Homo sapiens: one gene and its partners. The protein of the gene in region 1 purifies or fractionates together with the protein of each later gene. This does not show direct contact. Each region holds a gene or a part of one and is shown in the gene's direction. Other genes may lie near its edges. The genes, in order: LYG2, VPS33B, ZER1 and SPATA20.

Evidence for each region.
Region 2: the proteins of LYG2 (region 1) and VPS33B purify together in Homo sapiens (affinity purification with mass spectrometry; 2 studies listed by BioGRID and IntAct, with this or other methods). This does not show direct contact.
Region 3: the proteins of LYG2 (region 1) and ZER1 purify together in Homo sapiens (co-immunoprecipitation; 3 studies listed by BioGRID and IntAct, with this or other methods). This does not show direct contact.
Region 4: the proteins of LYG2 (region 1) and SPATA20 purify together in Homo sapiens (co-immunoprecipitation; 3 studies listed by BioGRID and IntAct, with this or other methods). This does not show direct contact.

What each region holds. Positions count from the first base shown.
Region 1 is NC_000002.12:99,252,660-99,260,679, reverse strand, and holds the start of LYG2 (lysozyme g-like protein 2 precursor), read left to right. Parts: upstream 1-5,013; 5' UTR 5,014-5,077; intron 5,078-5,542; 5' UTR 5,543-5,660; intron 5,661-6,389; exon of another isoform or gene 6,390-6,394; 5' UTR 6,395-6,419; coding exon 6,420-6,462; intron 6,463-8,020. UniProt on the Homo sapiens protein: May act as a potent antibacterial protein that may play a role in the innate immunity.
Region 2 is NC_000015.10:91,019,591-91,027,458, reverse strand, and holds the start of VPS33B (vacuolar protein sorting-associated protein 33B), read left to right. Parts: upstream 1-4,864; 5' UTR 4,865-5,209; coding exon 5,210-5,305; intron 5,306-7,868. UniProt on the Homo sapiens protein: May play a role in vesicle-mediated protein trafficking to lysosomal compartments and in membrane docking/fusion reactions of late endosomes/lysosomes.
Region 3 is NC_000009.12:128,768,913-128,776,430, reverse strand, and holds the start of ZER1 (protein zer-1 homolog), read left to right. Parts: upstream 1-4,503; 5' UTR 4,504-4,850; exon of another isoform or gene 4,851-5,273; intron 5,274-7,518. UniProt on the Homo sapiens protein: Serves as substrate adapter subunit in the E3 ubiquitin ligase complex ZYG11B-CUL2-Elongin BC. Acts to target substrates bearing N-terminal degrons for proteasomal degradation with the first four residues of substrates being the key recognition elements.
Region 4 is NC_000017.11:50,550,154-50,556,352, forward strand, and holds the end of SPATA20 (spermatogenesis-associated protein 20 isoform 1 precursor), read left to right. Parts: intron 1-54; coding exon 55-159; intron 160-382; coding exon 383-457; intron 458-554; coding exon 555-764; intron 765-844; coding exon 845-1,037; intron 1,038-1,357; coding exon 1,358-1,526; intron 1,527-1,815; coding exon 1,816-2,027; intron 2,028-4,097; coding exon 4,098-4,297; intron 4,298-5,078; coding exon 5,079-5,159; intron 5,160-5,338; coding exon 5,339-5,509; 3' UTR 5,510-5,699; downstream 5,700-6,199. UniProt on the Homo sapiens protein: May play a role in fertility regulation.

The sequences.
Region 1 (8,020 bases):
ATTTTCTACAGCATTTGATTATATTCAAGTCACTCCCAGGTTAAACCATGACAAAAGGACTGTCTTTGACACAAGTCCTTCTCCAGATACTGCTCCAGCTCTTCTCTCCATCACAGGTATAGTGAACAACTATAGAGCAGTTTTTTACAAAATCATCCAGACTTCTAGGTAAGTGACTGCCTGGGGTCAGAGGGTGAACAGGAGAGAAGAGGGAGGGGAGAGAAACTGGGAATGACTGCTAATGGTTGTGGAGATTCTTCCATGGATAATGAAAATACTCTAAAATTGATTATGCTGATGGTTGCAAAACTCTTATCAACATACTAAAAACCATTGAATTGCACACTTTAAATGAGTGAAGGCTATGATATGTGAATTATACCTCAAATCAAGCTGTTTTTAAAAAATAGCTTACTTGGCCGGGCACGGTGGCTCATGCCTGTAGTCCCAGCACTTTGGCAGGCTGAGGCAGATGGATCACCTGAGGCCAGGAGTTTGAGACCAGCCTGGCCAACATGGTGAAACCCCATCTCTACTAAAAAATACAAAAATTAGCCAGGTGTGGTGGTGGGCACCTGTAATCTCAGCTACTCAGGAGGTTGAGGCAGGAGAATTGCTGGAACCTGGAAGGTGGAAGTTGCAGTGATCCGAGATCATGCCACTGCCCTCCAGCCCAGGCTGACAACAGTGAGTCTCCATCAAAAAAAAAAAAAAAAAAAAGTTTACTTTTGGCACAATGAAAGACATAGTTAGGGGATATCATGAGGCAGTCTTTTTATGGTGATGGGTCAGTTCTGTATCCTGATTATGGTGATGGTTACTTGCATCTACCTGTGGGATAAACGTTCACAGTACTATACGCTTCTGAAATATAAATAAATATTTTTTTTAAAAGAGCGTGTAAAAACAAACTGGGGAAATCCAAATAAGGTCTGTACCTAAGTTTACAGTATTGTATAATACTAATGGTAATGTTCTGGATTTGACATGTACTATAGTTATGTAAGACATTGCCATTGGGGGAAGCTGGGTGAAGGGTACATGAGAACTCTTGGTACTATTTTTGAAGCTTCTTGTGAAATTTAAACTATTTCAAAATGAAAACGTTACTTTAAAATTTTGTTTCAGACTTCTCCCTTCTCCTTTCCAAACCACAGGGAGTCCCTTTTTCAAACAAATATATTCCTAGACATGGTTGAATGATCCAGAGGTGGGCACCTGACCCAGCCCAGGTTCATTGGAATTTTTTCCTGGATTTTTTTTTTAACTTGTGTATTTTTCCATTATATCGTTATACTACAACTGTTAGTCCATTCTTCTGTTGATGAATTTTTTGGAGTGTTTCCAGTTTTGAGCTATTATGAATAAAGCACTGTAAAAATTCTTTTTTTTTCTTTTCTCTTTGCAGAACTTACAATCTGTGAAGATTCTCATACAAGTCTTTTGGGAGACATTTTTTTTTTTTTCATTGCTCTTGGGTAAATAACTAGAAATAAAATTCCTGAGGCATATAGTTATTTACTTTGTTAGAAACTGCTGAACAGTACTACAAAGCAATCATACCATTTTATACTCCAACCAGCAATGTATGAGAGTTCTGTTTTGTTTCATATTCTCACCAATATGTGATATAGCTAGTCTTTGGTTTTAGCCTTTTTAGAGAGTGTGAAATACTGTCTCATTTTGGTTTTATTTTGCATTTCCCTGATGTGTAAAGATGTTTACCAATTTTTCATGAGCTTTATTGGCCATTTGTATATCTTCTTTCCTGAAATGTTGGTCAAATGTTTGACATTGGAAGACCAATAATGCAACCATATAAGTGGCTTCTTCAACAGGGCATACCCTGCATTTTACCTATCATATAGTAGATTAAAACCAAGACAAGAAAAGCACACAGCAGTTAAAGCTTGACATTGATATATCCTGGGGTTAAGTTGAATGTTTTAGTGAAATTTTATGGAAGGGCTCCCCTTCTGCCTTCTTACCAGCCATTGGCGCCAAAGTACCTTTGCCACATATTCTTGGGCAGCTCCCCCATTTTATAGGTTTCAGAGCTGTGAAACAGATGCTTGGGCTGCAGCTGCTTGTGTGGCTGTTTCTGAACTTATCCTTCCTCCACTCCTACCAGGCAGGCTACAGAGTCCTGACAATGAATAGCTCTTGCTTGTCCTGCCAAGTTTTCTTCATGGCTGGAGAGAGACTTCACCTCCTACTTCCTGTCCTATAATTCAGCTGTTTATTTTTCCTGAGTGCATGGATAAACAAACAAATGAATAAATCAACAAGAAGCTAAGCCATCAGGACTTGAGTGCAAACCCATCATGATAGTAACTGGCATCTCTATGAAGCACTGTAGTTTATAACATGTTTTTACATATAAAATTTATTTTTGTCTTCAAAACAAAGTCATGGGGCATTATTATCATCTCCATTTTACAGATGAGGAAAATTAAGGCTCAGGGAGGTTAAATGAGTTGGCTATGGTCATCCTCCTTGGCTGTTGTTCCTGAGAAGGGAAAGCTGTGCCTGGGATTCACAAATAATGACATGGCGGAGACAACCCAGTCTCTATTAGCACAGACTAGTGTTGGGAGGGAGGCAGGTGGGGACGCAGAGGGCGAGGGGACCAAGGGAGCCTGAGGTGCTGGATTCCTTTAACTCCCAAAAGTGCTAACCTAGGGTAGCTCAGGGCACAAGGGCAGGTCTTTGTGTGGTATGAATTGAGAAGTCTTGCCAGGAACTCCTACCAGAATCTACTTCCCTGGCTATACAGAGTACCTCAGTTTTCATAATCATTCCTCTCCTCCTAACTAGGACAGTACTGCTTAAACTTTCCCATTGAAGTTTTCCAATTGCTGAGGCCATTTAGTCGTTAGGGATGATTGGAGTCTCCACCACTGAAGCCAGGAACCCCAAATCTGTTAGGACTCCCCAGAAGCTGCCAGAGAATTGCTGCACTGAAGAGTCTTAGGAGCAGGCAACTGATTTGAGGGGTAGGGGACCAGGCCATAGAGTTTTATTTGTATAGCACAGAAATTGCTTGCATATAGATTGTGTTTTTATTTTGGGGACTGATAGAGATTATGACAGGTGCCAAGTTCCCTTCAAGCCCCTCCTGGAAATAACAGTACAACTTACATGTAGTCATTCTTGGTATCCCTGGGAAGAGATGGAGAATTATTCAGTACATTTCTTCTTAGTGACAAGAAATTTCTAAGGTCATTATACAATAGTACCCACACTTAACCATCCACTGGGTCAGTAGGGTACTGCAGTTAAGAGTTAGGCTTCAGAATGTAACAAACTTAGGTTATGCCCCTTCCTATTATTCTACCAGTCATACCATACAAGGTCAGTGCGTATTAACTACATTATTATTACTGGTGGAGAAAATATAAAGTGACAAAAAACCACTTTGGACTTAGTTAACTTATATTAATTTGCATTTTAGAAATTACAACAGCACCTACAAACATTTGACAGATAGTGGTATAAAAATCTGTGAGTGGTGTTATTTTTCCAGACCACGGACAATGCTTTGTATCCAGATTGATTTGGACCTGTTGCAATGATTGCTCTGCAGAGGCATTTGTCCATCGTGCTGGCACTTCGATACAGTGGAAGAGCATGGATTTTGGAATCTTACAGGCCTAGATTCAAATCCTGGCTCTGTCACATGCTAACTGTGCCATCTTTGACAAGTTACTTAGCTTCTCTGAGTCACAGTTTCCTCATCTCTAAAATAAGGGATAATACCTGCCTCACAGGGCCAGTGGAGGATTGAGTCATATAATATCCATAGGAACCTGACTAATGTTGGGTGTCAAATAAATGTTCAATTGTTCTCTCACAGCTTGAGTGAACAGAACAATCCACATCAGTTTGAAAACAATTTTGGTTGAGTTGCAGAAGCCTGGACATTAAGGACCTCATACCTAGAAGGACTCGTAGCCCCACTAACTGAGAGCAGAAGGATAAGTATTCTTCACATTCAACAGTGCTTTAAATGTTTTATTAACAATGTCTTCTTCCAGTGCATGTAGGGAGAGCCCCAGCCTCCACCTACTCTCTTTTACCTAACTTATCATTCGTAACTTCTTAATCTCCCTTTCTTGAGCTTTCTCATTGCACTTAGCCTGGAAGCCTCAGGTAAGTGGCTCTACTCACCCTGCAGTGAAGTGGGTCACGGGCACAATGTCGCTGGGTCATAGACTATGGGTTTCTAAGGCCTGCCTCAGGGCAGTTAGACTCCTGCAATATCCCTTATTCAAGAGTGGTCCTGACTGCAGTGTTGATGGTGGTGGAGCAGACCCTCCATGGGTCACTTTCCTGAGAGTCAGGTAGGAATCATCCATTGGCTCAGAACAGCCCTGCCACTCTTCCAGGGATGGAAGGCTAGAGGCCATGCCAGAGACGTCTGTTCTACAAGCAGGAAGGCAGGCAGGGCAGAAGTGAATGCCAGTGGACTGTGCAGACCTCAGCTTGGGGAGGGCATGTTCTCCTGGGAGTGGAGGTGGTTTTATTGCCAGGGAGCTGGGAAGTTGCCTGTGGTTTTGTCTTCCTGTTCCCTGTACAGCTGCCTTCCACCTTTCTTCACTCAGTGGATGTGGGGGAGGACTGTGTGCAGTCTGAGAAACTGGACACGCTTGTGGAAGGACCCAGACCAGACTTCTTCCTCCCCTCAGCGCAATGTGCTTTGCCTGTTTCAAGAACGTCCCTTCCATTTCCTGTTCCTGGGGCTGCACAATATGCTTCCTCTCTTCCTTTGGACATAAGCCTGAAGAAAGATACTCTCTTCTTGAAGAAGTTTTCATCCCTGGCTATAATCTTTTTTCCCATATCCTTAGCAAGTATGGGCAAATGAGCACTCACGTTGCTACTCCCTGGTTTTGCATTGATCTCCTAGAGCAGGTGGCCACACTTGCACCTTTTTCTCAGAAGTGGGATTGGAGTAAGGAGCCAAGTTCACCTATCATGATCATGTGACATAGTGGTTTGAGATCATGTGACATACTGGTACGGGGATCATATGACATTGGAATGGGAACAAAAAGCAGGAGACCCAATATTTCAGGTAAATAACCAATCCAAGAATAAAAATTGCTAGTATTTCCTGTTATCCTTTTAAAGTGAATTATCTGTTTCTTATTCGCAAATTTAGAAGCTGTTTGGCACAATTTTAGATATCTAGAAACAATCTATCAAAATATGCCTCCTGAGCAACTTGGGGGTTCATTAGGTTAATTAATTAATAGTGGTTAATAAGCCCTTTGAAATCCTCTTATTAATTGGGTCACCTAAGTCCTAAGTACTATTATAACCAGGCCTAATGAGGTCAATGGTTTAAAGAGAGGGTTTTAAACCATATATAAAGCTCCTCTAATGATCATTGGTACAGGACGAAGGTAAGAAAAGCCAGGTGAGTCTTCATGCTGGTGTTTAAAAGTTTCCTCCACAGCAGTAGAGCCACGCTGATGTCTACTCTGTTGAAGCCAGGTGCGCAGTGATCTACTGACTAATGGATTCTCCAATTGTTAAGCCTATGTTACAGGACAAAGGCCGTCGCTTTGTAAAAGCTTGAAGTGCAGTTTGCTGCTGAGTACAGAAGACCTTTGCAAACAGAGAGGGGAGATTTTCTCTGTAAGGTTGCAAACAAGGTTAGTGCTGGCCTTCTTATGTCTTGTAAAACTTATAAGCTACCATTTGAATGAAACCAAGAATAGAGTTGATTGAGGAAGAAATGGAGCAGAGGAAACCTCTTCTAAGTCACGTTCTCATGCTCCTGTTGGTATTTTGTTTTATTTTGTTTTCCCTACGGAGACCCTGGTATAAGAATGGAAACACCCAGGCATGGTGGCACGCATATGTCGCCCCAGCTACTCAGGAGGCTGAGGTGGGAGGATCGCTTGAGCCCAGGAGTTTGAGGCCATAGTGAGCTATGATTATGCCACTGCACTCCAGCCTGGGTGACAGAGCAAGATCCCATTTCTAAATAAATGAATGAAAGACCAAAACTGATCCTTGAAGCCAGGGGTAGGGTGAATAACTAGAATGAAAAGATCAGTATTTTTTTTTTTAAAAAGAAAGGGAACAAAATTGTGGTGTTACCAAGCTTAGAGGTGGGATGGGAGTGTATATTTAGTTACATATGTAAGATACGCATGACTCATGTCAATATGAAATTGGATTGAAGTGAGATTAGGAGTTTATGCTTAAGAAAGAGAGTGTGCCAACAAACTATGTACTGAGCCTGTGAGAATACTATCTTGAAACAGGGAAATGAGTAGTGAATTGGAAATAACTCTAAACTTTTTAAAATATCAAAGCAAATTTTTCTTTAGGAAATTTTCAGGTTTTAAAATTAACCAGTTTCTATTTCAAATCAGAGCAGGTCCTGGAAGATAAGATTCCCCGCCATGTTATCCTCCGTGGTGTTTTGGGGACTAATTGCCCTCATTGGTAAGTCACTGGCTGAGATTTAGCATTGTTCACAGGGTGTCCACAAAAACCTCCAGCACAATCATGAATCAGAAAGAGCAATGATTACCTGTAATGGAAGAGTGGGCTCTCATTCTGACCAGCTTGGCCATTAATCAACTATTATTTCTATAATTAACAGTGTGTTCTGCTTGCTAAGCAGGTGAAAAACAGGATCTATGGGAATTTCAAATAATCTAATATTTATTGATCTGCTTACTTCCTGTCTGACAATGCACCTATCAGGCTGGATACCTTACCGAGAGGTATATGGAACAGTGCCTTGGAAGCAAAACACATGAAGAGACAATTATCAATGCCAAGCAGTGGATGAGAGTTCAATGTGTATAGGTGGGAAAAAAGCACTAGTCTGGGAAAGGTTTGGGAGGAAGAGCTCACATCCAACTAGAATGCTCAGATGTGAAAGGCTTTTGGGGGGGACATGTCAATTGAAGGATGCTTGGTGATTTAATAAGAAAAAGGAAGAGCCTGCTGGATGGGAAGAAAGATTTCAGTAAAAAAGCAGAGGCAGAAATGAATGAAAAGTCTTTGGGTCAGTGTGGTCTGGACAGACGAGGGGGTTTCTGGGGGGAAGGCTGGAAAGATAGGTTGGTAAGTTGGTAAGGGATCTTGAATAAGAGAATGTGAAAACTCTGACCTAAGCAAAATGAAAAGCCATTATGAGCAATGTTCAAGTTGTCTTTAATTATAGAATGGTGACTGAAAGGAAAGTGTTTCTAAAATGTTTAATTCTAAATTTGGAAAAACAAGGCTACCCGAAAGTAATTTCCAGTTACTTATGGTCAAAACAGGGCAACATAGTTTTAAATTTTTACTCTTTTTAGATTGCCAGGTGAGAGCAGAGTTAAATAGCCAGTAGATTAATTATGAGCTACCATATTAGCTGTGTATAGCTGAAAGGTGACTCTTAATTTAAAAAGGGCTTGTGTGTTTATAAGGCCTACACAGGCAGCGTAGGGTCCATGGTCATATTCCAGTTCCCTTAAAGCAGTGGTTCATAAACATGTGTAAGAGTCAACTGGGAATGCTGGGTAAAAGGCAGCTTCTTTCGCCTTATACTGCAAGATTTTGGTGCAGTAGATCTGGTGTGAAAAGCCCAGTGATAAGCCTTTTTTTTTTTTTTTTTTTTTGAGACAGAGTCTTGCTCTGTCGCCCAGGCTGGAGAGTGCAGTGGTGCGATCTCAGCTCACTGCAAGCTCTGCCTCCTGGGTTCATACCATTCTTCTGCCTCAGCCTCCCAAGTAGCTGGGACTACAGGCGCCCACCATCATGCCCAGCTAATTTTTTTGTATTTTTAGTAGAGACAGGGTTTCACTGTGTTACCCAGGATGGTCTTGATCTCCTGACCTCGTGATCCGTCCGCCTTGGCCTCCCAAAGTGCTGGGATTATAGGTGTGAGCCACCACGCCCGGCCCAGTGATAAGCATTTTTAATAAGCTTCCTGGGTAACTTTGATGCCTGTGGTCTGTGGGCCACACAGTGAGCCTGGCAAAGACTGCCTCCCAGTGAAAGGATACTG
Region 2 (7,868 bases), on another chromosome or scaffold:
GGCAACATGGCAAGACCCCCCCCATCTCTATAAAAATAGGCCAGGCACAGTGGCTCACAGTTGTAATGCCAGCAGTTTGGGAGGCCAAGGTGGGTGGATCACTTGAGTCCAGGAGTCTGAGACCAGCCTGGGCAACACAGTGAGACCCTGTCTCTATAAAAATAGGCCAGGCATGGGCCAGGTGCAGTGGCTAGTGCCTGTAATCCCAGCACTTTGGGAGGCCGAGGTGGGCGGATCACGAGGTCAGGAGATCGAGACCATCCTGGCTAACATGGTGAAACCCCGTCTCTATTAAAAAATATAAAAAATTAGCCAGGCACGGTGGCGGGCACCTGTAGTCCCAGCTACTGGGGAGGCTGAGGCAGGAGAATGGCATGAACCCAGGAGGCCGAGCTTGCAGTGAGCCGAGATAGCGCCACTGCAGTCTGGCCTGGGCAAAAGAGTGAGACTCCATCTCTAAAAAAAAAAAAAAAAAAAAAGATTGCAATATATGATAATCATTTTTAAAGTATTTGATTAAACCTGATAGGTTTTCCGGAAATGGAAAAAAAAATCCATTTTAAAACCAAGCTGATTTTTAGAAAATTTCAAAATGTAAATCAGCCCTATCCAGAATATAATTTATTTAAAACTTTATCTTAAGGAGTCATTTTATAATAGTATAACTATTAAAAAAGTAACTGTTATTTTAATGTTTTGAAATAAAACATTTTAAAATATGAATACTGTAGCTTAAAAGAAAGAAACTGGAGAAGGAAAAGTAGAGAAAGAAATGCCAATTCCAGTCCAAAGTTTTATTTGTCAAGTTTTCTTAGAATAACTTTTACCTATTTACGAATTCTTGTAAATAGAATTTATAATGGAAATACTGAAAGACTTTTGCCTAAAGTGTCATTATCGAATACTGCTGTGATGTTACTGTAATGTAATAAGTTATTGTTGCAAAGTGCTGTTTTTGACTTAAAATTTTATTTTGTGTGTCTTGAAAACCATAGTATTAAAGGTATCGAGATTGTGCAAGTGCTGGGCACACTTGGCATGGGATAATGTTTTTATTTTTACAAAATTGTAATATAACTATGCAAGTGTTTATTAAAAGAACACAAACTGAAAAGGTTATGGGATTAAAAAAAGTAATGGGATTAAAAAAGTTATGAGATGTTCTGCACGGTGGCCCACGCCTGTAATCCCAACACTTTGGGAGGCCGAGGCGGGCAGATCACCAGGTCAGGAGATCAACACCATCCTGGCTAACACAGTGAAACCCGTCTCTGCTAAAAATATAAAAAATTAGCCAGGCATGGTGGCACACCCCTGTAGTCCCAGCTACTTGGGAGGTTCAGGCAGGAGAACTGCTGGAACCCAGAAGGTGGAGGTTGCAGTGACCCGATATCGCACCACTGCACTCCAGCCTCGGCAACAGAGTCAGACTCCGTCTCAAAAAAAAAAAAAAAAAAAAAAAAAGTTATGAGATTAAAAAGTTATGGGATTTTTAAAAAGTTACATTATGGGATAAAAAATGTTATGAAAAAAGACTGAGGAAAAAAATTGTGGGAAAAAAGTTGTGGAAAAAGTTATGAAAAAAAATTATTCCAAAAAAAGTTTTATGAAAAGCTATGGGATTAAAAAAAAAGTCATGTGATAAAAATTAAATAAAAGCAGGCCACTGTCAGCAAAACCTGGGGAAGTGTCCAATGGGGGAAACAGGTGCAGATGAGATGAAGATTACTGTCATCCAAAAGCAGGGAACTAGGCCCGGCGTGGTGGCTCGCTCCTGTAAGCCCAGAATTTTGGGAGGCCGAGGTGAGCGGATCACCTGAGGTCAGGAGTTCGAAACCAGCCTGGCCAACATGGCAAAACCCTGTCTCTACTAAAAATACAAAAAATTAGCTGGGCATGGTGGTGCGTGCCTGTAGTCCCAGCTACTCAGGAGGCTGAGGCAGCAGAATTGCTTGAACCCGGGAGGTGGAGGTTGTAGTGAGCCCAGATGCACCATTGCACTCCAGCCTGGGTGACAGAGCAAGACTCCATCTCAAAAAAAAAAAAAAAGTTATGGAAAAAACTTAGGAAGAAAAAGTTATGGGATAAAAAAAGTCATGGGATAAAAATAAAAATAAGGCTGGGCGCGGTGGCTCACGCCTGTAAGCCCAGCACTTTGGGAGGCTGAGGCAGGTGGATCACCTGAGGTCAGGATTCGAGACCAGCCTGGCCAACATGGAGAAACCTCATCTCTACCAAAACTACAAAAATTAGCTGGGAGTGCTGGCGCATGCCTGTAACTCCAGCTGCTCCAGAGTCTGAGGCAGGAGAATCGCATGAGCCTGGGAGGCGGAGGTTGCAGTTAGCCAAGACAGCACCACTGCCCTTCAGCCTGGGCAACAGAGTGAGATTCCGGGGGGGAAAAGAAGGAGTGTAATGTAATGCCTCACTCATCTTCTTTAAGCAGCAGTGGGAGTAAATCCCACCACTTTAGGGCAACCTCCATCTCCCACTGCAGCCAAGATTCAATCTAAGGGCGTTAGTGGGAAGAAAGGCTCAGCATAAAATACCATATGAGCTCTCAAAGTCCAGTGTGAGCATAGCGTGTTTTTTGTTTTTTGCTTAACCTTGTATTATACAGCTTTTCAAACATAGAAACGTAGGGAGAAGTTCAGCAAAGTGGCATGTGCCTGTATTCCAGCTATCTGGGGGGCTGAGGTGGGAGGATCACTTGAGCCCAGGAGCTCAAAGCTGCTGTGAGCTATGACTATACCTCTGCACTCCAACCTGGGCAACAGAGCAACACTCCATCTCTAAATAAAGACGTAGAATACTAAAATGCAATAAACCCCCATGTACCCATCAGCTTTAACAATTAACAAATGGCCAATCATTTTTTAATTTTTTTATAGACATGGGGGTCTTACTGTGTTGCCTAGGCTGGTCTTGAACTCCTGGGCTCAAGCAATCCACCTGCCTCGGTCTGGGTTCACAGGCGTGAGCCACCGTGCCTGGCCCAATCTTTTTCCTGAATGTTCCTACATCTCCCCCTGGGTTATTTTAAAGCAAATCCCAAACATATTTTAGTTTTTTTTTTTATTTTTTAAGAGACAGATCGGGCCAGGCATGGCGGCTCATGCCTACAATCCCAGCATTTTGGGAGACTGAGGCGGGAAGATCACCTGAGGTCAGGAGTTCAAGACCAGCCTGACCAACATGGAGAAACTCTGTCTCTACTAAAAATACAAAATTAGCTGGGTGCGTGGCACATGCCTGTAATCCCAGCTACTCAGGAGGCTGCAGCAGGAGAAACGCTTGAACCTGGGAGGTGGAGGTTGCAGTGAGCTGAGATCGTGCCATTGCACTCCAGCCTGAGCAACAAGAGCGAAACTCCATCTCAAAAAAAAAAGAGACAGAACATATCACTGCACTCCAGCCTGGGTGATAGATAAAGCCAGACCTTGTCTCAAAAAAAAAAAAAGAAAAGAAAAAACAAACGGTGTCTCACTCTGTTGCCCAGGCTGGGGTGCTGTAGCATGATCGTAGCGCACTGCAGCCTCAAACTCCTGGGCTCAAGTGATCCTCCTGCCTCAGCCTCCCAAGTATCGAGATTAAAGGTGCCCACCACCATGCCTGGCTATTTTTTATGTGTTGTAGTTGACCAATCTTATCTCAAACTCCTGGCCTCAAGCAACCCCCCGACCCCGACCTGGACCTCCCAAAGTGGTGGGAATTAGAGACATGAACCATTACTCCTGGCCAAATTATTTCACCTGTAAAAACTTCAGTATGTATCTCAAAGAGATAAGGACTTGTTTTTAACAGAAATACAAGCCTGTATGACATAGAAATACAAAAAATAATAATAACATAGAAATACAATACCTGGCCCAACGTTGTGGCTCACGCCTGTAATCCCAGCACTTTGGGAGGCCAAGGCAGGCGGATCACTTGAGGTCAGGAGTTCGAGATCAGCCTGGCCAACATAATGAAACCCCGTCTCTACCAAAAATACAAAAATTAGCCGGGCATGGTGGCACTCGCCTGTAATCCCAGTCTACTCGGGAGACTGAGGCAGGAGAATCTCTTGAACCTGGGGCGGCAGGGGGGTTGTGGCGCGGAGCTTGCAGTGAGCCGAGCTCCTCCACTAGGCAAAAGGGCGAGACTCTGTCAGGAAAAAAAAGAGAAGAAAAGAAATACAATACCCGAAAAGTTTTAGTAATTCCTTAAATCAGTTATCTTTGAATTATTATCCAAAAAAGATCCACACATTGAAACATTTTGTTGATACATCTCTTAAATCTCTTTTATTCTGAAGTGTTTTCCCCTCCCACATTTCCCACTTTGCCATTTTTTTGAAGACGACAGATCATTTGTCCCATATAATTTCCTACATTTTGGATATGGTTGATTTCATACCTTTGGTGTCTTAACATATTCCTGCTAATCTCTATATAGCCTATAAACTGGTAGTTAGATCTTGAGGCTTGATTAGGTTCAATTTTTGGCAATAGGTGATGCTCTGTATTTCCTATGCATCTCACCAGGAAATGATATGATGGTATGATTGATCAGAGTTGAGGTATTGTTAGCTAGCCTGATGCATTCATTATGTCTTTTTTTTTTTTTTTTTTTTTTTTTTTGAGGCAAGGTCTAGCTTTGTTGCCCAGGCTGGGGTGCAGTAGCGCGATCGCAGTTCACTGCAACCTCCGCCTCCCTGACTCGAGCGATTCTCCCACCTCAGCCTCTGGAGTGCTGCGACCCCAGGCGCCGCCACCTAATTAATAGACGCGTTGCCTCCGTTTTTCAAATGTCCCTTTCAGGACGCCGTCCCCTTCCTGGTACGCGAAGCGCTGGGAGCGAAAGGGACTTCCGGGAGATCTAGGAAGTCGCTTCTTTTTCTGGTAGAAGGCGGGGTTCTCCTCGTACGCTGCGGAGTCTCTGCGGGGTGTAGACCGGAATCCTGCTGACGGGCAGAGTGGATCAGGGAGGGAGGGTCGAGACACGGTGGCTGCAGGTCTGAGACAAGGCTGCTCCGAGGTAGTAGCTCTCTTGCCTGGAGGTGGCCATTCATTCCTGGAGTGCTGCTGAGGAGCGAGGGCCCATCTGGGGTCTCTGGAAGTCGGTGCCCAGGCCTGAAGGATAGCCCCCCTTGCGCTTCCCTGGGCTGCGGCCGGCCTTCTCAGAACGAAGGGCGTCCTTCCACCCCGCGGCGCAGGTGACCGCTGCCATGGCTTTTCCCCATCGGCCGGACGCCCCTGAGCTGCCTGACTTCTCCATGCTGAAGAGGCTGGCTCGAGACCAGCTCATCTATCTGCTGGAGCAGGTCAGTGCTTGCCTGACGCCTTTATCGCATCTACAGTTTAGCACTCATTGGATGCACATTTCTTCCTTGCCGTGCCCCTTTGATCTTGTTCTTGGCCCCTGGTATTGTCCTTGGCGCTTCCCCAGCAGGTCCAGAATGAATCCAGGGAGTAGTAAGAGCTGTTTGGAACCTGGCCAGAGAGTTAATGGAAATCACCCCCCAACCCCGCATACAGGCAAGGGAGACACCATTAGTGCCAGGCATCCCTAGGGACGGAAAGATGGTTAAGACATCTTTGCCATTAGGGATCTTACCACTCCAGTAGGAGCTGTATGAAGCACAAATTATCACACACAGGTGGTAAATGAGTGATAGAGCTAGTGTACCCGAAGAGTTCACAGTAAGTGATCATTTCTAGTTGGGGTGATGATCTAGGAGCTTCAAGGAAGTGAGTGTGAGTAATAAGCATATTTTCTTTGGAGACTAAGCATGCTCCAGGCAGATAGATTGGTAGGAGCAAAGTTGGCAAACCAGGGAAAGACAAGGCATGTAAGGGAAGACACCCATCAGCAGTTACACAGTAGCCACTGAAAAAAATTTTTTTTCCATTTGTGGCATGAGACAATACTTGATGATTCTAATAGTGATGTGTGTGGTGGCGTAAATGGGCAACAAGAAGGCCAGTTAGGAGACCGTAGATCAGACAAGAAATAAAGGCCCACACAAAATTGGTAGCAGTGGGAATGAAGGAAAGTGATGGATTTTTAAGTTATGGTGAAAGAAAACTCAAAGACTTACTGATTGGTTATAAATGTTGAAGGAGAAGCAAAAATGAGTGAGATTTTTAACCTGGGTTATTAGGAAAATAATACTGCCACTGTGATTTTAATGGATTACTTGTGTAATCATTTAGTTATTCATTTTATGTCTGTATTCCTCATTAGACTGGAAGGTGGGCAGGGATCATGTTTGTTTTGTTCAACACTACCTAGTGAGTACCTAGCTTAGAGTCAAGCACACACCATGTGCTTAATAAATATTTGTTGTATTAACATTGAATAGAAATGAGAAAAATAATTAGAAAAAGGAACAGGTTTGATGGGGGAAGTTGATTTGTTTGGGTTTGGATGGGGGAAGTTAAGATGCCCGTAAGAAATATAGCTTGTAACATCCAGCAGATAGAAATGTAGAACTGCAGCTGCATTGTGAGGACTGGAAGGAAGATGGATCAAGATGAGAACTGCAGGGCATCTTAGACCAGATTTTATTTCTATTTTATTTTATTTATTTTTTTGAGACACAGTCTCACTCCGTTGCCCAGGCTGGAGTGCAGTGGCGCGATCTTGGCTAACTGCAACCTCCACCTCCCGGGTTCAGGCGATTCTTCTGCCTCAGCCTCCCCAGTAGTTGGGATTACAGGCGCACGCTAGCCCACCTGGCTAATGTTTGTATTTTTAGTAGAGATAGGGTTTCACCATGTTGGCCAGGCTGGTCTCAAACTCCTGACCTCAGGTAATCTGCCCGTCCCAGCCTCCCAAAGTGCTGGGATTATAGGCTTGAGCTACCACTCCCGGCTTCTTTCTCTTTAATACTTAGTGCTTGCACAGTGACATGCACATAAAAGACTTGCAACAATGTCTGAAGAATTTAAAAGAGGTGCTAGTTAAAGCCACTAGTTCAGGTGAGATCAAGTAGAGGAGACCAAGAAGAGAAACTTGAGCCCACTGGGTGATTCAGCATGGCCAAAGTGGATTTCCAGGCAATAACGTCCTCTCCTAACTAACTTCTGACTTAATTTTTGTTAATGTGCACTGCTATTCAGCTTGAAATATCAGAATCATCTTTGCCTCTCCTTCACCCTGATACTTAACTGAACCAGTTGCTGAGTTCCATGGATACTTCTTTACACATAACTTTTTTATGGTGATTATAAAATAACACTTGCACATTATAGAAAATGTAAGAAGATTAAGGAAAGTAAAAAGGAAAAGAAAACTACTTATAGCCCTACCATAAGTTATAAACACTACTAACACTGTTAATTTCTTTCAAGTATTAAAAAAAATATTAGGCTGGGTGCGGTGGCTCATGCCTGTAATCCCAGCACTTTGGGAGGCCAAGGCAGGCAGATCACCTGAGGTTGGGAGTTCGAGACCAGCCTGACCAACATGGAGAAACCCCATCTCTATTAAAAATACAAAATTAGCTGGGCATAGTGGCCCATGCTTGTAATCCCAGCTACTCAAGAGGCTGAGGCAGGAGAATTGCTTGAACCCAGGAGGTGGAGGTTGCGGTGAGCCGAGATCGCGTCATTGCACTCCAGCCTGGGCAACAAAAGCGATACTCCATCTCAAAAAAAAAAAAATTATATTACACATTCCATGTATCTCTTAATCTATGTTTGCTCACACCACCACCAGCCTAAATCAGGCCTCTTTCATTGCCACATGCTTGCGCTCTGTGGATGGTTTTATTAACTCCCTAAGTGGACTCCCTGCCTCCTGTTTCTCTGGTCTTCAGATTCCTCTAACATTTCCAGCTGATTGGAATGCTTCAATACACAAAAGCTTTATTTTTCCCTGTT
Region 3 (7,518 bases), on another chromosome or scaffold:
ATTTTTAGTAGAGACGGGGTTTCACCATATTGACCAGGCTAGTCTCAAATTCCTGACCTCAGGTGATCTGCCCGCCTCAGGCTCCCAAATTGCTGGGATTACAGGCATAAGCCACTGAGCCCAGCCTACAGTACTTGATTTTCATACGTTGAACCATCCTTGAATTCCAACAATAAATCCCATTCCCACATCTCACTTGGTCATAGTATATTGCTATTTTAATATGCTGCTGAATTTGGCTTGCTATATCGAAACTATATCTTTTTTCAGCCTCTTACTTTGAACCTATTTCTGTCTTTACATTTAAAGTGGGCTTATTATAGGCAGCATTTTGTTGGGGCTTGCTTTTTTAAAAGTAAAAATTTTAGAGGCAGGGTCTCCTTCTGTCACCCAGGCTGGAGTGCAGTGCACCATCATGACTTACTAAAGCCTCAACCCTCTGGGTTCAAGAGATCCTCCTGAGTAGCTGGGACTACAGGCATATGCCACCATACCTCACTAATTTTTAAATTTTTTGTAGAGACAGGATCTCACTATATTTCCCTTGCTCGTCTCAAACTCCTGGATTCAAGTGACCCTCCCACTTTAGCCTCCCAAAGTGAGAGCTTGTCTTTCTTTCTTTCTTTCTTTTCTTTCTTTCTTTCTTTTTTTTTTTTTTTTTGAGATGGAGTTTCGCTCATGTTGCCCAGGCTGAAGTGCATTGGCGCCATCTTGGCTAACCACAAACTCTGCCTTCTGGGTTCAAGTGATTCTCCTGCCCTAGCCTCCCAAGTAGCTAGAACTACAGGCATGCACCACCACACCCAGCTAATTTTTGTATTTTTAGTAGAGACAGGGTATCACCACATTGGCCAGGGATGGTCTTGATCTCTTGACCTCATGATCCACCAGCCTCGGCCTCCCAAAGTGCTGGGATTACAGGCATGAAGGCATGAGCCACTGTGCCCAGCCATTTTTTTTTTTTTTTGAGATGGAATTTCGTTCTTGTTGCCCAGGCTGGAATGCAATGATGCCATCTCAGCGCACTGCAACCTCCACTTCCCGGGTTCAAGAAATTCTCCTACCTCAGCCTCCTGAGTAGCTGGGATTACAGGCATGCGCCGCCACGCCCGGCTAATTTTGTATTTTTAGTAGAGATGGGTTTTCTCCATGTTGGTCAGGATGGTCGTGAACTCCTGACCTCAGGTGATCTGCCCGCCTCAGCCTCCCAAAGTGCTGGGATTACAAGTGTGAGCTGCTCTGCCCAGCTCGCTCTTTTCTTTTTTCTTTCTTTCTCTCTCTCTCTTTTTTCTTTCTCTCTCTCTTCCTTCTTCTTTTCTTTCTCTCTTTTCCTCTCTCTCTCCTTCCTTCTTTCCCTTCCTTCCTTCCTCCCTCCTTCCCTCTCTCTCTTCTTCTTCTTCTCCTCCTTTCTTTCTTTTTCTTTCTTTCTTTCTTTTTCTTTCCTTCTCTCTTTCCCTCTTTCCTTCCTTCCCTTCTTTCTTTCTTTCTCTCTCTTTTTTTCCTTTCTTGTCTTTCTCTCTTTCCCTCTTTCTCTCTCTCTCTCTTTCCTTCCTTCCTACTTTCTTTTTTTTTTTTTGAGACAGAGTCTTGCTCTGTCACCCAGTCTGGCCTCAGCCTCCCAAGTACCTGGGACTACAGGCAAATGCCACTACGCCTGGCTAATTTTTTTTTTTTTTTTTTTGTATTTTTAGTAGAGACAGTGTTTCACTATGTTGTCCATCTTGTCTCAAACTCCTGGCCTCAAGTGATCCGCCCACCTGAGCCTCCCAAAGTGCTGGGATTACAGGCATGAGCCTGGGGCTTGCTTTTCTATGCAATGTGACAAACTCTGCCTTTTACTTAAAGTGTTTAGACCCTTACATTCACTATGATTATTTTCCTGGTTTAATCTAAGCCCATTTTGCTATTTGTTTCTTTTTTTTTTTTTTTTTTTTTGAGACGGAGTCTCGCTCTGTTGCCCAGGCTGGAGTGTAGTGGCGCCATCTCGGCTCCCTGCAAGCTCCGCCTCCCAGGTTCACACCATTCTCCTGCCTCAGCCTCCCGAGTAGCTGGGACTACAGGCGCCTGCCACCACACCCGGCTAATTTTTTTGTATTTTTAGTAGAGACCGGGTTTCACCATGTTAGCCAGGATGGTCTCGGTCTCCTGACCTCGTGATCTGCCCGCCTCGGCCTCCCAAAGTGCTGGGACTACAGGCATGAGCCACCGCGCCTGGCCTGTTATTTGTTTCTTATTTCCTATTTGTTTTCTGTTTTCTTTCTTTTTCTTTTGTTTGAGACAGAGTCTCACAGTGTTGCCCAGGCTGGCGTGCAGCGGCGTGATCTCCGTTCACTGCAACCTCCGCCCCCAGGGTTTAAGCAATTCTCCTGCCTCAGCCTCCAGAGTGGCTGGGACTATAGGCACATGCTGCCACACCTGGATAATTTTTTAAAATTTTTTATTTTAGTAAAGACAGGGTTTCACCGTGTTGCCCAGGCTGTTCTCGAACTGCTGAGCTCAGGCAATCAGGCCACCTCAGCCTCCCAAAGTGCTGGGATTACAGGCGTGAGCCACCAAACCGGGCTTTTTTTTTTTTTCTTGTGAAACAGAGTTTCACTCCTGTTGCCCTGGCTGGAGTGCAATGGCACAATCTTGGCTCACTGCAAACTCTGCCTCCCAGGTTCAAGCGATTCTCCTACCTCAGTCTCCCAAGTTCCCAAGTAGCTGGGATTACAGGCGTGCGCCACTATGCCCAGCTAATTTTTGTATTTTTAGTAGAGACGGGGTTTCACCATGTTGGCCAGGCTGGTCTCAAACTCTTGACCTCGTGATCTGCCTGCCTTGGCCTTCCAAAGTGCTGATATAACAGGCTTGAGCCACGACGCCTGGCCCAAGCAATGTATTAATATGAGAGTTCCCATCTAGCCATATCCTCGTCAACATTTGTTATTGTCTCTCTGATGATGTCCATCTTAAGGAGCATAAAACCGTACCTCCCCACCTCCTGGGCTCAAGCAATCCTCCAACTTCAGCCTCCCGAGTAGCTGGGACTACAGATGCGCACCACCATGCCCTGCTAATTTTTGTAGAAATGGGGTCTCCCTATGTTGCCCAGGCTGATCTCCAACTCCTGGGCTCAAGCCTCAGCCTCGACAACCCCATCTGCTGAGATTATAGGTTGTGAGTCACTGTGCCAAGCCCAACAGCTTTTTTAAGGATTCAAGACTGTACGAACATAGTTGTAGCTGGTCAAAGATTAAAAGGTGCTATGCAAGAAAAAAGAAATCCACAAAATTAGTTCTTGGAATGGAACTGAGGCACCTGTCAAGAAAGGGTTCCTCAAGAAAGGAGCATCTAGCTAGGGTGTGGTAGCTCACGCCTGTAATCCCAGCACTTTGGGAGGCTGAGGTGGGCGCATCACCTGAGGTCAAGAGTTTGAGACCAGCCTGCCCAACATGGCGAAACCCCATCTCTACTAAAAATACAAAAATTAGCCAGACGTGATAGTAGGCGCCTGTAATCCCAGCTACTTGGAGGCTGAGGCAGGAGAATTGCTTGAACCCGGGGAGTCTGCAGTGAGCTGAGGGCCATTGCCCGCCAGCCTGGGCAACAAGAGAGAGAAACTCCGTCTCTCAAAAAAAAAAAAAAAAAAGAGAAATCCAGAGAAGAAATGATGGTGTTTTGAGATGGAGTCTTCCTCTGTCGCCCAGGCTGGAGTGCAGTGGTGCGATCTCAGCTTACTGCAAGCTCTGCCTCCTGGGTTCAAACGATTCTCCTGCTTCAGTCTCCTGAGTAGCTGGGATTAGAGGCGCGCACCACCACGCTCGGCTAATTTTTGTATTTTTAGTAAAGACGGCGTTTCACCATGTTGGCCAGGCTGGTCTCGAACTCTTGACCTCAGGTGATCCGCGTGCCTCGGCCTCCCAAAGTGCTGGGATTACAGGCGTGAGCCACTGCGCTCGGCCAGAAGGAACTGGTTTGACAGGATCCTTAGGACTTGGAGACTGGACGAGGGGCCCAGGAAAATGTAGGGGCCGAGGTCGCCGCCCAATTTCCCATTTGGAAGCTCGGTTGCCTGGTGGCGCATGCCCTAGATGGAGGTTAGGAGCACCTTTTGGGGGACGGTGATGACTGCGGGTTGACACGCGAGTGTGAGCCACCCGTGGAGAACGCAAGACATGTTCAACAGGGCGCTGGATGGAGGGGGCTGGCGCCCAGAGTCAGTCCTGCTATTCAGCAGTGTTGGGCTCAGGTGAACCGCAGCGCCAGGGCGGGCACCGATCCTAGGGTCCCACGAACAGGCCCCTCGGAGGCCAGGGAGAGCCCTGAATGACGCGTTCTCTCGGGTGGCCTGGGGGGGGCATCCCGCGGCTTCCTCCACCGGCGTAACGTGCCGGGCCCGGGGAAAGGAGCCGCCCGCCGGTCCCCGGAACCTTCTGCCGCCGCCGCCCGCGTTAGCCGCGGGACGGGTCGGGGGAACCCGATCGCTGTTGCTAAGGGGCGGCCCCGGAAGTGACGCGCCCCGGGTTTGTTGACAGCGGAGGCGGCGGCGGCTGCAGGCTCCGAGCCGTAGGAGCCGGATCGGGGGAGGGGCCGGGCCCAGGAGCCTCAGCCCCGCCGGCAGCCCTAAGGGCAAGGTAACCGCCACGGGGTCCCCGTCGCGACCCCCTCCCTCCCGGAGCTCCCGTCCCCGGGATCCCAAGCTCCGCCCCGCCGACCCCCGTCTCCCCTGGACCCCGGCTCTAGCCTGACGAGATCCCCAACCTCCTGAGGTGCTCTGGCCCCGGATTCTCCCGGGCTGCATTCTCTGCTCCTCCTCGCCTGCGAAGCATCACGTCCGCTTCCCGACGCTGAGGGCAGCCCCGTCCAGGGTAGGTCCCGGACCCCGGGCCAAGGGACGTACCTGCGTCCTCCTCCTTCGCCTCCTGCCTACGGGGCCTAAGCATCGCCGCTGCAACCACTCTCTGAGGTCCATCTCCGCCAGTGGTGGGAGGGTTCCTTTCTCTATCCCTGCCGCCAGGTCTGAGAATCGTGTCTTTAAAACTGAGCTCCCTTCCTCCAGAAAGAAAATGACGCTCTGTCGTTTGCCCCTACAAGATGGGGGATCGGTGTAGGGCTGAAAGGGCCACCCTCTGCCCCTCCTACCTGTTGGATGAGCTTAAGTTCCCCCAGAGAAGTGCTTAGAAGCTCAAGGACGACTTGGATTCTGGATCAGCTCCCAAAAGGGATGACACAAAGTATAGGGAAATCCAACAGGGTGAGGTTGCAACCGGAGGGCCAAGGGAGCCCGACAGGTGAGTTGATAGTGAAACTGACTGTGCTGGCCACTATAGCTCTCTGGGTGGAACTTGTCTTGGCTGCTCTTTGACCGAAAGAGCCCAAGATTTCCAGTCTTTGCCTGTGTTTGTCAGTCCATTCGTTTTGTTTTGTTTTGTTTTTCTTTAAATAGAGATGGGGTCTCACTATGTTACCCAAGCTGGTCTCGAACTCCTGGGCTCAAGTGATCCGCCCGCTCCAGCCTCCAAAAGTGCTGGAAATACAGGCATGAGCCACCGCGCTCAGCTAGTGCATTTGATTTTTAAGGGGGAGGGGAATGGAATGTCTGATGTCTTGGGAAAATCCTTCCATATATGATCTTTCACAGAATGTTTCTCTTCAGACTTCAAACTGGTTAGGATGAGCATAAAAGCATAGCCTTGAAAAGGGTCACGGGAGGCTATACTTAGAGCAGAAAGTGGTGGCCAGGGGTGAAGGGCCTCGCTACTTTGGTTCATTTGTTCATTCAGCAAATAATAAACATGATATGTAAGGAGGTAATAAGTGGTTTGGAGAAAAATAGAGAAGGAAGGACCATGGGGAAGGAGTTGGGAGTTGTCATTTTATAGAGGGTGTTCAGGGAAGGTCTCTAGTAAGGTGACCTTTGAGCAGAGATAAGTGAGGGAGCAAGCCAGGTAGTTCTCTTGTGGCAGAGCATTCCGCAGCAAATGCAAAGGTCCTGTGGTCATATGCCTGGTGATTTGAAGAAACAGCATAAGGGCTCACGCTTGTAATCCCAGCACTTTGGGAGGCTGAGGCAGCCGGATCACCTGAGGTCAGGAGTTCAAGACCAGCCTGGCCGACATGGTGAAACCCCATCTCTACTAAAAGTACCAAAAAAAAAATTAGCTGGCCGTGGTGGCTCATGTCTGTAATCCAAGTTACTCAGGAGGCTGAGGCAGGAGAATTATTTGAACCTGAGAGGTGGAGGTTGCAGTGAGCCGAGATTGTGCCCATTGCATTCCAGCCTGGGTGACAAGAGTGAGACTCTGTCTCAAAAAAAAGAAAGAAACAGTGGGAGGATGGGGGACTGGAGCAGGTTGAAGAAAGGGAAGAGTGGTTGGCAAGAAAGTCAGAGAACAGTGGGGACCAGAAAAAGGTGGGGAAGACATCAGGGGCTGTCCTTGTGATACAGGGTCACAGGGTGTCTAATGGGACACCCTTTCAGAACCGTACTTGTTGAAGTGTCTGGTGGTTGGAGAAAATACAGATTTGTTTTAGATGACAAATGGCCATTGTGCTTGGGGCTTCGGTTGTAAGTACCCTTCTTCCATCTTTGTAATGACCATTGATGGAACAAATACAAAGAATCATGGTCACAGAGAACTGCGATTAAATCAAGTTAAGTTATGCCGCTGCTTCCTGGTTGTGAGAAGGTGGGCACGGGACCTTTTTCCACCTCAATCTTCTCATCTGGAAAATACAGCAGGCTGGGTGTGGTGGCTCACACCTGTAATCCCAGCACTTTGGGAGGCAGGTGGATCACCTGAGGTCAGGAGTTCGAGACCAGCCTGGCCAACATGGTGAAACCCCATCTCTACTAAAAATACAAAAATTAGCCGGGTGTGGTGACGCATGCCTGTAATCTCAGCTACTGGAGAGGCTGAGGCAGGAGAATCGCTTGAACCTGGGAGGTGGAGGTTGAAGTGAGCTGAGATCATGCCACTGCAGCACTCCAGCCTGGGCGACAGGAGCGAAACTCCATCTCAAAAAAAAAAAAAGAAAGAAAGAAAAGAAAAGAAAATAGGGCTGTTGGATTAGATAAAATCATGGGCTGAAGTGCTTAATGCAGTATTTCACACAAAGTGCTCAATACATAGCGGTCACGCTGATGAGGATGATGTGATGATGAGGAATGTGGGCATGTATGTCTGCCTCAGAGCCGTTCGTTTTAGCACTAGCTGGTGGTGTCACCAGCTCTAGCTGCCTCCATCAACTAGTAGGATTTGAGGAAATATTGGGGAAAGCAAGACAGAAACTTCTTGACACCCCTCAGAGGTAACTGGGTTAATATTCTGCAGAGAAGACGTTAGCTTGGTCCTGGCTTTTCTGACAGCAGCGGAGGGTGATGGGGACTTTTAAAAAAGAGCCCAGCACTGCCAGCGCTTTGGGAGGATCGCTTGAGGCCAGGAGTTTGAGACCAGTCTGGAGAACATAGGGAAACCCTATCTCTAAAAAAAAAAGAATTAAAATGAGCCCAGCAAATTTCCATTCTACCACGTA
Region 4 (6,199 bases), on another chromosome or scaffold:
GGCTGTGGGGTGGGGCAGAAGCTGGGACTGGCCTCCAGCTTTGTATCCGCACAGGGCTTTCACCGCTACTCCACAGACCGCCAGTGGCACGTCCCTCACTTTGAGAAGATGCTCTATGACCAGGCACAGCTCGCTGTGGCCTATTCGCAGGCCTTCCAGGTGACCCCTGACCCCAGCCCAGAGAACAGGCATCTCACTCTGGCTGCCCCTCCCAAGGCCTTCCTGGTGACTGTGGCTTCTCTTAATCTGAATCCCCTGTTCCCTCCCATGTACCCACTACCCAGGCTTCCCTCCCCCGCCTGCCTCAGAGAATGTTGCCACCTTCCACCTGGGCCTCCCCAGTGACCTCTCTGTTCACAGTCTCCTTTCTTCCCTTTCTTAGCTCTCTGGTGATGAATTCTACTCTGACGTGGCCAAAGGCATCCTGCAGTACGTGGCTCGGAGCCTGAGCCACCGGGTGTGTGTCCATGGTGGCAGGCAGGCCTGGCTGTGGGAGGGGTTGGGGCCTCCACTGCCCTGTGGGCCGGGGCCAGCCAACTCTCCCCTCCCCACAGTCCGGAGGCTTCTATAGCGCAGAAGATGCAGACTCGCCCCCAGAGCGGGGCCAGCGGCCCAAAGAGGGCGCCTACTATGTGTGGACGGTCAAAGAGGTTCAGCAGCTCCTCCCGGAGCCTGTGTTGGGTGCCACCGAGCCGCTGACCTCAGGCCAGCTCCTCATGAAGCACTACGGCCTCACAGAGGCTGGTAACATCAGCCCCAGTCAGGTGAGGACTTCTGGGGTCACCTGACGGGCCCTGGTGCCTGCCAGGCGTGTGAGCTCGCAGACAAAGGCCATTCTCCTCAGGACCCCAAGGGGGAGCTGCAGGGCCAGAATGTGCTGACCGTCCGGTACTCGCTGGAGCTGACTGCTGCCCGCTTTGGCTTGGATGTGGAGGCCGTGCGGACCTTGCTCAATTCAGGGCTGGAGAAGCTCTTCCAGGCCCGGAAGCATCGGCCCAAGCCGCACCTGGACAGCAAGATGCTGGCTGCCTGGAATGGTGGGGCAGCACACCTGAGACCGAGCCTGTCTGTAGGATCCCCCTTCACAAAGCCCCTGTCTTTCCGGCAGCGGCTAAATGCTCACTCTCCCTTGATTAGCGTTATTATTCTCAGTTGACAAAAGAGGCTTAAGGAGCTTGAGTAACCCGCCCAAGGTCACGCGCAAGGGCTGGGAACCCCGCCATGTCTGGCTTTGGAGCCCAAGATCTTAGGGATCACCCATGGCTCCAGGGAGGTGTTGGGGCCTAAGGTGATAGGGTGGACATGCCTGGAGGGTCCTGGCCAGCTTCTTACCACTACTTGTCTCTCCTGGCTCCAGGCTTGATGGTGTCAGGCTATGCTGTGACTGGGGCTGTCCTGGGCCAAGACAGGCTGATCAACTATGCCACCAATGGTGCCAAGTTCCTGAAGCGGCACATGTTTGATGTGGCCAGTGGCCGCCTGATGCGGACCTGCTACACCGGCCCTGGGGGGACTGTGGAGCACAGGTTGGGGGCTGGGTAGACCGGGAGGGCCCGTCTCCCCAACGCGTCCCCAGCCTACCTCTGCCCTACTTCTCCCCTCCATGTGGACTCCAGTCCTGGCTCTGCCAGGTGCTTGCTGTGAGTTTGTAGCTTCCCTGGGCCCATTTACTCATCTGGGAAGTGGGCTGATGGCACCTGCCCAAGAGGGTTCATCTGGAGGGTTAAGTGAACAAATGCGTGAAAGGGCCTCCTCTGGGAAAGGCCCTCTCTCCTGGGGCTCTCCCCAGCCCCTCCCGTAATGCCTGTCCCCCAGCAACCCACCCTGCTGGGGCTTCCTGGAGGACTACGCCTTCGTGGTGCGGGGCCTGCTGGACCTGTATGAGGCCTCACAGGAGAGTGCGTGGCTCGAGTGGGCTCTGCGGCTGCAGGACACACAGGACAAGCTCTTTTGGGACTCCCAGGGTGGCGGCTACTTCTGCAGTGAGGCTGAGCTGGGGGCTGGCCTGCCCCTGCGTCTGAAGGACGGTCAGTGGGGGTGCAGGGCTAGTCTGGGGTCCTGGGAGGTGTAAGTGCAGCGTGGGTGAAGAGCTGGTGTGGGCAGGAGCCCTCCTGGCTTTGTGTCTCTGCTACTTATTAATGGCGTGATTTTTGGCTGCTGTAATATTTCTGTGTCTCAATTTCTTTTTTTTAAATAGAGACAGAGTCTTGCTATGTTGCCCAGGCTGATCTTGAAATCCTGGGCTCAAGTGATCCTCCCACCTCGGCCTCCCAAAGTGCTGGGATTACAGGCATGAACCACTACACTCAGCGTGTTTTGTTTCGTTCCTTTCTTTTCTTTTTATTTCCTTTCTCTTTCTTTCTTTCTCTTTCCTTTCTTCCTTTCTTTCTTTTCTTTCTCTCTTTCTTTCTCTTTTTTTTTTTTTTTTGAGACAGGGTCTCACTGTCACCCAGGCTGGAATGCAGTGGCATGATCTTGGCTCACAGCAACCTCTGCCTCCGGGGCTGAATCAATTCTCCCACCTCAGCCTCCTGAGTAGCTAGGACTATAGGCATGCACCACCATGCCTGGCTAATTTTTTGTAGAGATGGGATTTCTCCATGTTGCCCAGGCTGGTCTGAAACTACTGGGCTCAAGTGATCTGCCCACCTCGGCCTCCCAAAGTGCTGGGATTACAGGCGAGAGCCACCATGCCTGGCCTGTTTCTTAATAAGTAAAATGGAGCTAACATTGGTACTACCTTACAGGGTTGATGTAAAGATGAATGTAGCTGTTCTGTAAACATGCTTAGCACAGTAACTGACACCCATGGATTCAGATATTGACCAAGGCTCACTTGGTCTCTGCCCTCATGAAGCTTACAGTATGGTAGGGGAGACAGCGAAAATGCAGTAATGATGCAAAAACACATGCACAAATGTGCAGTTAAAATTGTGGTGAGTGCCATGAAGAAGTAGGACGCTCTATGTGTGCCTGCTCCCTATCACCCATGTGCCTTGTCTGTGGTTAAAGGTTTCTTTCCCAAAACTCAAATTTTAGCTCCTCAAAGATCAGGACTTTCTGCCACTGTTGTATCCCCAGGGTCTAGTGTGGTTCTGGCACATTGTAAGTGCTTAATAAATGTTAACTGAGTGAATGAAAGGGCCTTGGGAGAGAACCACAGAGGAGGACCAACTCAGCCTAGGGAGAGATTAGAGGACACCTGTGACAGGTGTCATTTAACCAAGGCCTGGAGGGAAAGAGGGGCCATGTGGCCATGGAGAAGCTGTGGAGAGAGTTCAGGCATAGGGAGCAGTGCATGACAGGCCTGGTGCAGGCAGCCTGTATCCTGGAGGACAGGCAGGGCCCGCGTGTTCCAGGAGGGCACCGAGGAGAATGCTGAGGCCGGCAGGGCACGGAAGCCGTCTTTTTTTTTTTTTTTTCCTAAGAAAAGAAGGCTGGTCTCAAACTCCTGGGCTCAGGTGATCCTCCCGCCTCGGCTTCCCAGGTGCTGGGACTACAGGTGTGAGCCACCATGCCCGGCTGGCAAGGAGGTTTTAAGTGGATTGTGATCTGCTCTGGTATGGTTTTAAGGAGGTCACTCTGACCACTGATGGAGAGAAGTGGGGGTGGGGGAAACAGGCGACCAGTTAGGAGGCCATTACTCGTGTTCAGTCCAGGCAGGCATTGGTGAAGGCTCAGAGGATGTGGAAGTATGAGATGGGGAGACATGGTGAGATTTGGATCTCTTCTGGCCACAGCCCTGGCAAGACTCACAGATGGATTAGAAGCGGAGGGAGAGGGAGAGGAAGGGGACAGGATGATGCCGCTCTAGCTTGAGCAGCTGAGTGGCTGGACAGAGGCATCAGCAGCGAGGAGGGAGCCTGGAGACCAACAGTTGAGGCTAGGACAGGTAGAGTGGAGGGTGCCATAAAAAAGACAGCAAAGTACTGATAACTGCTGGAGTGGCATCCACACCCAGAGCGGGGAAGGGGCAGGATGGGCAGGGCCTTTTCTCTGTCCCGTCCCCCAAGTGGCCCTGGATACAGTCCTGGGCAGGGTCCTGGGACTCAGTGACCTGCCCTTACCCCCACCCCCTGCCTCCCTATGTGCTGTAGACCAGGATGGAGCAGAGCCCAGCGCCAATTCCGTGTCAGCCCACAACCTGCTCCGGCTGCATGGCTTCACGGGCCACAAGGACTGGATGGACAAGTGTGTGTGCCTATTGACCGCCTTTTCCGAGCGCATGCGTCGTGTCCCGGTGGCGTTGCCCGAGATGGTCCGCGCCCTCTCAGCCCAGCAGCAGACCCTCAAGCAGGTGGGGGGTGAGGGCATCTGGGCTGGGACCTCGGGTAGGAGGGAAGTTGGGGCTGCGATGGCAGATGGGAACAGGGGGTGGGGTTCCTGGGCTGTCCCCAGAGCTCAGGTCTGTGTGTGTGCAGGCACGTGGCCTGTCAGACAGGGAGGCAGAAGTTAATATGAGTCCGTGGTGGCTGATGAAGTGTTTCTCTGTACGTCTTGGTGTCAGTGTAATTGCTTCTGTCCATACTGTGTTACTGGTGTGTGTGTACTTCCGGGTGTGTGTGACCCTGGAGGTGTGTGTCTGTGCACCTACCTTTGAGGGGGATGCTGGTGTGAGTGTTTGTCTGTCTGCATGTGGATGCCCCATCTGCAGGTTTGCCTCTGTGTCTGCCTGCATGCGTGTGTGTCTGGTGTTTGTGTGTGTGGTATCTGCCTCTGTGTGGGCATCTACTGTGTGTGTGTGTGTGTGTGTGTGTGTGTGTGTGTGTGTGTGTGACTACTCTGTGTCTGTCTGAATGGGTCTCTGTGTGCTCTGGGTCTTCTGGGTGTGTGTCTCCCCATGTTTGTATCTGTACCATTGTGTATATGTATGACATTTCCACTTCGGTATTCTCATGTGTGAGTGTGTGTGTGTGTTCCCACTTGCCAAGCATTAACTCATCCTGGCAGCTGAGATGAGTCCCTGTTCCTTCTTAGAGATATACGGTGGGGCGGAAGGAGGATGGGGAAGCCCTGGTGGTCTAGGGCTCAGCCCTCCCTCCCCTGACACACCGGAGTGACCTTTCTATTCCGGTCAGATCGTGATCTGTGGAGACCGTCAGGCCAAGGACACCAAGGCCCTGGTGCAGTGCGTCCACTCTGTCTACATTCCTAACAAGGTACCCATCCCTGTGAGCCCAATCTGCCACCTCCCCAGAGCTGCCCCCTCCCATCCTCAGCTCCTCAACATCTCCTTCCCCTCAGAATGTTGGGAAGAGGGAACTTCCCAGTGGGCCTTTCTAATGGGCAGGTGACCCCACCCCGGCAGGTGACTCTCCCTGCTCTGCTGCTGCCCTAGGTGCTGATTCTGGCTGATGGGGACCCCTCGAGCTTCCTGTCCCGCCAGCTGCCTTTCCTGAGTACCCTCCGACGGTTGGAAGACCAGGCCACTGCATATGTGTGTGAGAATCAAGCCTGCTCAGTGCCCATCACTGATCCCTGCGAATTACGAAAACTACTACATCCATGACTGCCCCAACCCCCTTGGGGTGGGGCAGAAGGTGAAGCATCCCAACTGACTAGAGACTCAGGCCCTGCAGGGCCCTATAGAACCTGTGGCCATCCCTGAGCACCCTGCCACCAGGTGACCTCGGCCATACTCACTGCCCCCCTTGGGCACCCACTCACCCTAGAATAAACTTAACAGTGTCCCGTGGTAACCTGAGGGCCTCAGCTTTGCTTATGAGGGAGGGACTGGGAACCAGCAGCTCAGGGCCACTTCCTCTGGCAGCCCCCACCTGACCCCTCTGCCTTCTCCCATTTCTCCTTCATCTTCCAGGGGTCAGCAGACTGCCCCTTTCCCTTCCATGGTCATTGTAGCCTGAATGAATTTAGTCCCCTGAACTGAGGTCAGGGGACTAAAACCAAGTAAAGATGCCCAGGGGTGGGCATGGGGGTGTGGACTGGCCCAGGAGGGAGAAAGCACAATCCTTGCCCTCAGAAAGAGGTTAAGAAGGGAACCTGCCCTCCCCTCCCCATTGTCTCCTTGTGTTGAGCTGGAAAGGGGGCAGAGATGCTTTATATGAGCTTTTATATTTCACAGAATGGTGACTTTGCATATGCCCTGGTGCATTGTGGGAGCTGCTATTGTCACGACTAAGACATTTCTTTTGGGGTATCCATCTAGCCCCAGCCTCGAAAGGATGGAAGCAGGGCCTCC